Regions from separate parts of the Homo sapiens genome. Here all the other regions are linked to region 2. The links come from fine-mapping of genetic effects on gene expression. A gene starts in region 2. Each other region holds a variant in brackets. All regions are shown on one strand. Distances are from middle to middle.

Evidence for each region. PIP is the estimated chance that this variant, and not a neighbour inherited with it, causes the effect.
Region 1: its variant is the best candidate, but not a certain one, in a credible set for the expression of STEAP2 in stomach (GTEx, PIP 0.56).
Region 3: its variant is the best candidate, but not a certain one, in a credible set for the expression of STEAP2 in cerebellum (GTEx, PIP 0.82).
Region 4: its variant is the best candidate, but not a certain one, in a credible set for the expression of STEAP2 in putamen (GTEx, PIP 0.64).

The regions. Positions count from the first base shown.
Region 1 is chr7:90,185,448-90,188,138 of GRCh38, forward strand. All of the region lies in intron 2 of STEAP2-AS1 (STEAP2 antisense RNA 1), which reads right to left. Among named protein-coding and RNA genes, the nearest start is that of STEAP2-AS1, 25 kb to the right of the region's middle. The variant A/G (reference allele first, on the strand shown) is at 1,573.
Region 2 is chr7:90,210,227-90,212,917 of GRCh38, forward strand. STEAP2 (STEAP2 metalloreductase) reads left to right here and starts at 1,514. Exons shown (of 6, transcript NM_001244944.2): 1 at 1,514-1,819. It overlaps STEAP2-AS1 (STEAP2 antisense RNA 1), which reads right to left and starts at 1,409. Exons shown (of 3, transcript NR_110029.2): 1 at 1,074-1,409. RefSeq lists a silencer at 1,617-1,676.
Region 3 is chr7:90,236,594-90,239,284 of GRCh38, forward strand. STEAP2 (STEAP2 metalloreductase) reads left to right here. Exons shown (of 6, transcript NM_001244944.2): 6 at 1-1,090. It overlaps LOC107986819 (a long non-coding RNA gene), which reads right to left. Exons shown (of 2, transcript XR_007060423.1): 2 at 994-2,691. Among named protein-coding and RNA genes, the nearest start is that of CFAP69, 7.2 kb to the right of the region's middle. The variant C/G (reference allele first, on the strand shown) is at 1,462.
Region 4 is chr7:89,764,236-89,766,926 of GRCh38, forward strand. No RefSeq gene overlaps it. Among named protein-coding and RNA genes, the nearest start is that of STEAP1, 390 kb to the right of the region's middle. The variant G/A (reference allele first, on the strand shown) is at 1,191.

The DNA of each region.
Region 1 (2,691 bases), 25 kb before region 2:
CAAAACAGAGATATAGACCAAAGGAACAGAACAGAGCCCTCAGAAATAATACCACACATCTACAACCATCTGATCTTTGACAAACCTGATAAAAACAAGAAATGGGGAAAGGATTCCCTATTTAATAAATGGTGCTAGGGAAACTGGCTAGCCATATGTAGAAAGCTGAAACTGGATCCCTTCTTTACACCTTGTAGAAAAATTAATTCAAGATGGATTAAAGACTTAAATGTTAATCCTAAAACCATAAAAACCCTAGAAGAAAACCTAGGCATTACCATTCAGGACATAGGCATGGGCAAGGACTTCATGTCTAAAACACCAAAGCAATGGCAACAAAAGCCAAAATTGACAAATGGGATCTAATTAAACTAAAGAGCTTCCGCACAGCAAAAGAAACTACCATCAGAGTGAACAGGCAACCTACAGAATGGGAGAAAATTTTTGCCATCTACTCATTTGACAAAGGGCTAATATCCAGAATCTACAAAGAACTCAAACAAATTTACAAGAAAAAAACAACCCCATCAAAAAGTGGTCAAAGGATATCAACAGACACTTCTCAAAAAAAGACATTTATGCAGCCAACAGACACATGAAAAAATGCTCATCATCACTGGCCATCAGAGAAATGCAAATCAAAACCACAATGAGGTACCATCTCACATCAGTTAGAATGTGGATCACTAAAAAGTCAGGAAACAACAAGTGCTGGAGATGATGTGGAGAAATAGGAACACTTTTACACTGTTGGTGGGACTGTAAACTAGTTCAACCATTGTGGAAGACAGTGTGGCAATTCCTCAAGGATCTAGAACTAGAAATACCATTTGACCCAGCTATCCCATTACTGGGTATATACCCAAAGGATTATAAATCATGCTGCTATAAAGACACATGCACATGTATGTTCATTGCGACACTATTCACAATAGCAAAGACTTGGAACCAACCCAAATATCCATCGATGATAGACTGGATTAAGAAAATGTGGCATATATACACCATGGAATACTATGCAGCCATAAAAAAGGATGAGTTCATATCCTTTGTAGGGACATGGATGCTTCATCCTACTCTTCACCAGTTAGAGTAGTTCCCTTAAGTACATAAGCAAACAGCTACTTGCATCACAAATTATTGTAATTGTAACAAAGTAATCTACATTCCTAATGACGCTGCATCATGAAGAAAACATAAAATTAAATAGCACGCAATCTATTTAAGAGATCTTAAAGAAATAATAATCATGAATAATTTTTAAAAACTATTGGACAATTATCTAAATAATTCCATAATTATTCTGAATAAATGATAAGCTGTGATCATCCTAATTAGCTTGGGAAAGGTTTTATATTAGAATAACATTCAAAAGCTGAAAAAATATGAAAAATTAAGGTAATAATAAAGTAACATAAAATAAATTAAAAGTTGCAATTACATTAAAAATCACTGTGGCCATAATTATGACCTGTAGACACATCTGGAATACAAGAACACAGGCACAGAAGTCACTTAACAAATTTTTCTTTTTATGAGTGATCAGCAATGAGTATTTTAACAGGTTTTAAC[A/G]CTACATTCAAACATTATCACACTTAAAAAGAGGGCTTATTATTGTATCAAAATATCTTTTTGGCAAAAAGTTAAAGCATAAGTTGAAATGTGATGAGTACAAAATGATTAGGGGGTATAATAAAATCATTATTCATCTTAATGCTTCATTCCAGCTAGCAATCCAAGTTAGCAAAAGTCACAGGAAAAACAAGGATTTTAAAAGTTGAGTATAAGATGAGAAATACTAACAACTATTTTTGGCACCTGTTTAATGCTTTGTGGCTCTATACATTTCTTAACTTTTCCTGCTTAGACTCTCTCTTTCAGTGAGTCTTTATTCTAGTATTCATCCTTTCCCAATCCAGTCTATGTGCTCTGAAGGAAAATTACCTCTTCCCTAGCCATAGGGGTGGACTCTGGATCAAACCATATCTGAAGCTTCCTCATCACTGGATCTTTCAATTATGAAACTAATACACTTCTTTTACTGGTCAAGTCATTTGGAATTAAATTTTATTTCATTAGAAAATTAAATTATATCATATATAATGTGTATGAAATATGTATACACAATTAAAATAATAATAATAAAATGAACACTCATGTACCAGACACCCAGCTTAAGAAATAAAACAGTGTTCAGAGCTCCCCTAAGTGCCCTGCCTTATTATAACTGGCTTCCCATCCCAACCCTGAGAGGTACACACCATCCTGAACTTTTGGTTTATGATATATAACAAATATCTTTTCACAATGTGACTAACCTTTTTCAGTTCCTCTATGGTTTCCATTCATTATAGAGAGTTTTTAATTTTAATGTCAAATGGATACATTTTTTCCTCTGCTAGTTCATATTACTGTATGTGTCTTATTTAATAGACCTATCCTGGCTAGGTACAGTGGCTCATGCCTGTAATCCCAGCACTATGAGAGGCCCAAGTGAGAGGATCACTTGAGCCCAGGAGTTCCAGGCTGCAGGAAGCCATGATTGTGCCATTTGAAAATATTATAGATAGATAGATGATAGATAGATAGATAGATAGATAGATAGATAGATAGAGATAGATAAATAGATATTTTTCTATGTTTTCAAGTTTTCCTTTTCATAATAAGTATTTTATTTTATTAGAATTGATT
Region 2 (2,691 bases):
ACCTACATGTTTTACATGATAATTTATGGTTATAGAAGTTAGAAAGTGCAATTTCTTTTAATATCCCCGTGGGGAAGTTATATAATTCTATAGTTTTTTAAAATATATGGAAAAGCAATATACTTTCCGTTAACTGCTAAGATTCATGAATTTTCTCCACAAGTTCTCCAGAGGAACTACTAGAAAAAACTCCACGAATCTCATTATTTGACAGTTTTGTTGAAGTGAAATTATTAAAATTGATATTAGATTTAATGACTTGTTTCCAGTAACCAAAATGGAAAGTATTCTACCAGCTGTCGATGGTTCCACACCCTGACACATCGTTAAAACCTTAGCTTCTGCCTAAACTTTAAACCTTAATAATATTTGGCGGTAGGGGAGGGGTTACATTTCAAGTCAAACAAAGGATGTATTTCCAAAGCAGCATTTACAAAGGTTAATCTGTGTATGGACTACAAAGGGGAAAGTGCAGTGCCCCAGTGATCGATCTAAGACCCCCCTCTCGTTGTTGTTGTTGTTGGGTTTTTTTGGTCTGGTTAATAAACCACCTAGAGGGATAATTTTTAAACTTAATTTGTTGAAATGGTACTTTACTAATGTATGAAAAAAATTTCCCCAAATTTGAGAATTTTTGGTAAGTTGATTTTATATTTGGGAATAAAGATCTCTTGCTTCTTCTACTGACACCTTCTACACAAAAGATAAAAGGTACTTTTACTTGGTAATCCGCAGGGAGAAAATTTACAGAAACCCAGAGCCAAAGGTGCTCTCAGGGGATCCCCTGAAACATTCAAAGCCATTGCGGCCCCAGAAGGTAAATGGCTTTCGCAGGAACACAGGTCTCCTGACTCACGGCCTAACCTTCCTTTCCCCCACACCAAAGCTCGCGCGGCACCAGCTAGAGTGAAGGTCAAAGTCAACAGAATAATCTCTGCAGTCCAGGGTCTGTGAGGGTCCTCCTATCCGAGGGAGTTTTCATGAAAGGGCATTTCCGAACATTTTATTCCAAGGACACAGTCTAGTCAAAAGACGTTTGGGATAGGGTAAACATGAGGCAAAAGAACACTTACAAAAGAAAAAAGCGCAGTTTCTTGGAGGCTTGTCAGAAGCTAAGACTGGGGAGATGAGAACCAGGGCCCTTGGCGAGAGTTGGGGTGGGAATCGCGTAAGAAAAGCAATTTCTAGAGCGGAAAGGTGACCCCACATTACAAAAAGAAATGGAGTAGAAAAATAGGCTTGACTATTCTAAAGCTGCTTCAGAAAGAATCTCCGGAAGACCACGGAGGAACCCCGCAGGGGAGCCAGGCGGATACTCAGCCGCTCGCGGTAGAAGGGCGCGCAAAGCTGCGGAGCCGCGTGTGTGGAGCTCCCCAGTGCACTCACTGCTGGCTCCCCCTCGGTGCTCTGGGCCCTTCCCAGCTCCCTCCACACAGCCCGGCTCCCTTCACACACCCCCGCCCCCTCCGAGCTCCCCGACTCCTCCCCGCGCTCCACGGCTCTTCCCGACTCCAGTCAGCGTTCCTCGGGCCCTCGGCGCCACGAGCTGTCCGGGCACGCAGCCCCTAGCGGCGCGTCGCTGCCAAGCCGGCCTCCGCGCGCCTCCCTCCTTCCTTCTCCCCTGGCTGTTCGCGATCCAGCTTGGGTAGGCGGGGAAGCAGCTGGAGTGCGACCGCCGCGGCAGCCACCCTGCAACCGCCAGTCGGAGGTGCAGTCCGTAGGCCCTGGCCCCCGGGTGGGCCCTTGGGGAGTCGGCGCCGCTCCCGGGGAGCTGCAAGGCTCGCCCCTGCCCGGCGTGGAGGGCGCGGGGGGCGCGGAGGTGAGCGGGTCGGGGAGGAGCGCGAAAGAAGGTAGCGGCGGCGGAGTTGAGGGTCAAGATGCAGTCTGCGCCACGCGCTGCATCCATCCTCCCCGATTCTGCGCCCTCACCGGGCGTCCGCCCTGAGCTGCGGGGTCCCTCATCTCCTGGCACCTTAAGGTGGAAAGTGAGAAGGGTGGAGAAGGGTGTCTGTTCCACTGATTCCCCCTCCTCCTCCTCTTGGTTCCTAGAGCTAAGGGCAAGTCCTGAGGTTGGGCCCAGGAGAAAGAAGGCAAGGAGACATTGTCCCAGGTAGGATGTGTCCCAGCAGGAAAGGACAGGCAGGTTACTTTCGCCCCCTTGATAGTCTCCCTGCTACTTTGGGTTGATGCAGGGCATTTCATGGAAGATCATGCAGTGCTGCTTTGCGAACAGGTATTTCTAGCAGTCATTTGGTTTATTTCCCAGTAATGTAATCGTGGTGTTTAGGCCATTTCTGTTAGAAAGTAATTGGCCTCTTCTTTGACTGTCCTAAATTATCTTTGAACCCTGTGTTCAGCCTCAGCCAAAACTTGTTGAAAATTATGCCCTAAAAATCTTGCTCTTAAAATAGAGCAGAGAGATAAAGAGCATTTTTGTTGGAAGATTTCCATTTATTATCTCTCCCACCCCGTGGAGAAGGATTGGTGTCAGTTTTTACTCCTCGGGCAGTTAGTTTTTTAGATGGAAAGACAGTCCAGGCCATAGTTAATTATCGCTCATCAGTATAGGAGAAAAAGAATTCAGACTCCTGCCCCACCCCCACCCCCACCCCCAACCTCCTGACTTAGATTCTGGTCCTTTTAACAGCCCCGCTGCTTGGAACCCTTTTTGTTTTCTAAACCACCTCCCCA
Region 3 (2,691 bases), 26 kb after region 2:
ACATGAATGAATGGGTTCTTCACTTTTTTTTTAGTATGAGAAAATTATACAGTGCTTAATTTTCAGAGATTCTTTCCATATGTTACTAAAAAATGTTTTGTTCAGCCTAACATACTGAGTTTTTTTTAACTTTCTAAATTATTGAATTTCCATCATGCATTCATCCAAAATTAAGGCAGACTGTTTGGATTCTTCCAGTGGCCAGATGAGCTAAATTAAATCACAAAAGCAGATGCTTTTGTATGATCTCCAAATTGCCAACTTTAAGGAAATATTCTCTTGAAATTGTCTTTAAAGATCTTTTGCAGCTTTGCAGATACCCAGACTGAGCTGGAACTGGAATTTGTCTTCCTATTGACTCTACTTCTTTAAAAGCGGCTGCCCATTACATTCCTCAGCTGTCCTTGCAGTTAGGTGTACATGTGACTGAGTGTTGGCCAGTGAGATGAAGTCTCCTCAAAGGAAGGCAGCATGTGTCCTTTTTCATCCCTTCATCTTGCTGCTGGGATTGTGGATATAACAGGAGCCCTGGCAGCTGTCTCCAGAGGATCAAAGCCACACCCAAAGAGTAAGGCAGATTAGAGACCAGAAAGACCTTGACTACTTCCCTACTTCCACTGCTTTTTCCTGCATTTAAGCCATTGTAAATCTGGGTGTGTTACATGAAGTGAAAATTAATTCTTTCTGCCCTTCAGTTCTTTATCCTGATACCATTTAACACTGTCTGAATTAACTAGACTGCAATAATTCTTTCTTTTGAAAGCTTTTAAAGGATAATGTGCAATTCACATTAAAATTGATTTTCCATTGTCAATTAGTTATACTCATTTTCCTGCCTTGATCTTTCATTAGATATTTTGTATCTGCTTGGAATATATTATCTTCTTTTTAACTGTGTAATTGGTAATTACTAAAACTCTGTAATCTCCAAAATATTGCTATCAAATTACACACCATGTTTTCTATCATTCTCATAGATCTGCCTTATAAACATTTAAATAAAAAGTACTATTTAATGATTTAACTTCTGTTTTGAAATGTTGTATACACGTGGATTTTTTTCTCATTAAATAATAATTCTAGTATTTGATGGAGGCCTTCTAATACTTTTCTGAGTTATTTCTTTTCAGAAGCATCCAGAAAGCAATACATGTGATAGTTATGGAGGGGTTTTGTTTGTTTTTACTAAAATAGTCATTTAGAAAAACCTCCATTTACATTTATTTTATTACATTATTTCATTTTACTAGCATTCATTAAGCATCTTTAAATCAGAACACACACAATATTCAAGCTATTCTGTAAACTCCCCGTAGCAGAAATTTTGTCTTATTTACTACTAAATCCCCAGTATCTAGTATAATGTGATCTATGATGGATACTAAAGAGATATTATAATAAATAATTACCCATTTTTACAGAAAATTATGTTTTTTATCATCCCGCATCCATGCAGCCATG[C/G]CTACATCCTCTTGCCTCTTCCTCATGCCTTGCCTCCTGGCCAGTGGCCTAGCGCTACCCTGTTGTCCTAAAGAGTTTCTGCTGCTGCTGCCACTACCACCACCACCACACTGCTATATGTTGAGGAGTCCTGTACACTGTGCCACTGACAAGGAGTAACTGACCTTTGTGCCTGTGCACCAGATCTGTCTGTGGAGGTTCTGGCTTCCCCAGCTGCTGCCTGGAAATGCTTAGGTGCTAATATCCTGAGAGGAGGATTGTCAGGTAAAATACAGGACTCTCAGTTAAATTTGAATTGCAGACAAACAATAAATTACTTTTTATTATAAGCATGGGCTTTTTAAAATTTTTCTAAATCTGGCAACCCTACTTAAGGAGTGAACTTTGATCAAGGAGGTACAGCACAAAATGAAGCTAGTAGATAAATTCTCCCTTCCTTTCCCCCAGATAGGCTGTTCTAAAGTGCAATAATTCATAAGACCTTCATGAAAATATCCTCAAAGACCGAGCAATTAACTGCACTTGTTGCAAAGCTATGACAAGCTCACTAACACCTGTGTTTGTGTTCCCTTCTCCTACTGCCTCACTTCCATGTTTTTCCTCACTTCTGTTTCTCAGAGATAGTACTCCCCATAGAGTGGCAGCAGGTGAGTGTTGGTGTTGTTTGTTTATGGCAGGCTTGGGGAACCTAGACTAGTACAGTACTTTTGGTAGTGGATTCTTCTAATGGGAAGTGAAACAAGAGACAAATGATGACTTTGAGAAAGTCAGGCACGGGACCCTGCAGACTCAAAATCCAGATTTGTTGAGACCCCTGAGAGTAGAAAAACCCCTCAGGGGCAGATTCACATTGATCAAATGTACAGTCATACACTGTTAAATCAAAATAGTAACTCAGCACTACTGTGTGAAATATCAGTGTCCTGTAGGCGAGAATACCATTTGTGCCTTGATTAAACATACTTTATTCTTGAATCTGCTGTTTATAAGAATTGAAGTTATAATTCAAAAGATACTGGGATCTGTTATGGGCTGAACTGTGTTTCCTCAAAATTGATACATTGAAATCCTAACTCCCACACTACCTCAGAATGTATTTGGAGATAGGATCTTTAAAGAGGTAAAGTGAGGTCATACAGTTGGGCCCTAATCCAGTATGACTGGTGTCCTCATAAGAAGAGGAGATTAGGAATCAGGCATGCACAGAGGGAAGACCACGTGAAGTAAAAG
Region 4 (2,691 bases), 450 kb before region 2:
TACAATTTCAACAACATTGAAGGACATGAGGTCAGTTCTCAAAAATCAATTGTATTTTGATGCACTGTCAATAAACAATCTAAAAATGAAATCAATAAACAATCGCACTTACAATAGCATCAAAAATAACAGAATTCTTAGAAATAAGTAATCGAGGAAGTGTAAGACTCGGACATTGAAAATGATAAAGCATTGAAAAAACTTTTTAAAAATTAACAATCATTTATTAGTGTTTGTGAATTGGAAGACTTAATATTGTTACGATACTAATAATCCCCAAATTGATCTACAGATTCAATGTAATTTTTATCAAAATCACTGCAACCTCTGCCTCCTAGGTTCAAGCTATTCTACTTCCTCAGCCTCCTGAGTAGCTGGGACTACAAACCACCCAGCTAATTTTTGTATTTTTAGTAGAGACGGGGTTTCACCATGTTGGCCAGGACGGTCTCAATCTCTTGACTTCATGATCCACCCGCCTTGGCCTCCCAAAGTGCTGGGATTACAGGCGTGAGCCACCACACCTGGCCGAAAGCTGATTCTAAAATTCATATGGAGTTAGAAAAATCCAGAATAGGGAAAACAATTTGAAAAAAAAAGGGACAAATTTGGAGAACTCACCCTTCCCAATTTTGTTACCTACCTACAAAACTACAACAATCAAAACAATATGGTATTGACATAAAGACAGAAATAGAGATTAATGGAATGGAATTGAGAGTACAAAAATAAATCCTTATGTTTATGATTGATTTTTGACAAGGGTGCCAAGACAATTCAACAGAGAAAGAAGAGTCTTTTTAACACATGGTGCTGGGACAAATGGATATTGATATATAAAAGAATAAAATTGGAAAAGCTCCCTCACACCATAAACAAAAATGAACTCAAAGTAGATTGCAGACTTACATGCAACTTCTAAAACTGTAAAACTCACAAATGAAAATAGGTAAATCTTCATGACCTTGATTTGTCAACAATTTCTTAGACATAACACCAAAATCACAAGCAACAAAAGAAAAAAAAAGTGAATTGTGCTTCAATAAAATTAAAATATTTTGTGATTCAAACATCACTATCAAGAAAGTGAAAAGACAGCCCATATAAGGGAATAGATATTTGTAAAGTACATATCTGGTAAGGAACTAGTACCCAGGATATATTAACAACTCTTACATCTCAACAATAAA[G/A]ACAAATAACTCAAACAAAATGGGATTTGAATAGAGATTTTTTTGAAAAGGATTTGAATAGAGGTTTTCCCAAAGAAAATATGCAAATGACCAATAAGCACCTGAAAAGATGCTTTAACATCATTAGTCATTAGGGAAATGCAAATAAAAATCACAACGAGGTATTAACCACTTATCAGATACATGGTTTGTAAATATTTTTTTCCATTGCTTTTTCACTGTATTGTTTCCTTTGCTGTGCAAAAGCATTTAAGTTTGATATAATCCCACTTCCTTATTTTTGCTTTTATTGCCTGTGCTTTTGGTATAGACCCAAGAAATTATTGCCAAGACAGTGTCAAGAGGATTTTCCCCTATGTTTTCTATTAGCGGTTTTATAATTTCAGGTCTTATATTCAAATCTTTATTTTAAGTTTTTTTTTGTATAATGTAAGATAAGGATCAAATTTTACTCTTTTGTAGGTGGATATTCAGTTTTTCTAATACCATTTGTTGAAAAAAACAATCCTATCCCAATTGTGTATTCTTAGCACATTTGTTGCAGAATAGTTGGCTATGTATGTGTGGGTCTATTTCTGAACTAGCTATTCTGTTCTATTTGTCTACATATTGCCTTTATGCCAGTACCATACTGTTTTCATTACAGTGGTTTCATAATATATTTTGCAAACCATATTTCTGAAAAGGGGTTAATATCCAAAATACATAAAACTCTCATAGCTCAATAGCACAAAACAAATAAACTGATTAATAAATGGACAAAGAACTTGGATAGACATTTCTCCAAAGAAGACATACAAATGGCCAACAGGTATATGAAAAGGTAATCAACATCACCAATCAATTTTCAGAGAATTGCAAATTAAAGCCATAATGACATACTACCCCATACTTGTTATTATGACTATTTTTTTAAGAAAAAAGTAAGTGTTGGTGAGGATGTTGTGAAATTGGCCCCTTGCACATTGCTGGTGGTAGTGTAAAATAGAGCAGCCAATATGGAAAATTGTATGGATGTTTTTCAAAAAATTCAAACCAGATATACCATATAATCCAGCAATTTCACTTCTAGATATAAATTAAAAATAATTGAAATCAGAATCTTGAAAAGATATCTGCACTCCCATATTTATTACATCATCATTCGCAATAGCCAAAATATCAAAACAATGTAAAACATCCACTGACAGGTAAGTAAAGAAAATGTGATATAAACATACAATAGAGTATTATTCAGCCTTAAAAAAATAAGGAAATCCTGTCATATGGAACAACTTGATGAACCTACAGGACATTATACTAAGTGAAGTAAGCCTTTCACAAAGGACAAATACAGGTATATCTCATTTTATTTGTGCTTCACTTTTTTTCATTTCACAAATATTGCATTTTTTTTTTTTTTTTTTTTTTTTTTTACAAATTGAAGGTTTGTTGCAACCCTACTTCAAGCAAATCTGTTAGCTCCATTTCTCCAAATATATGCTCATTTCATACCTCTAGG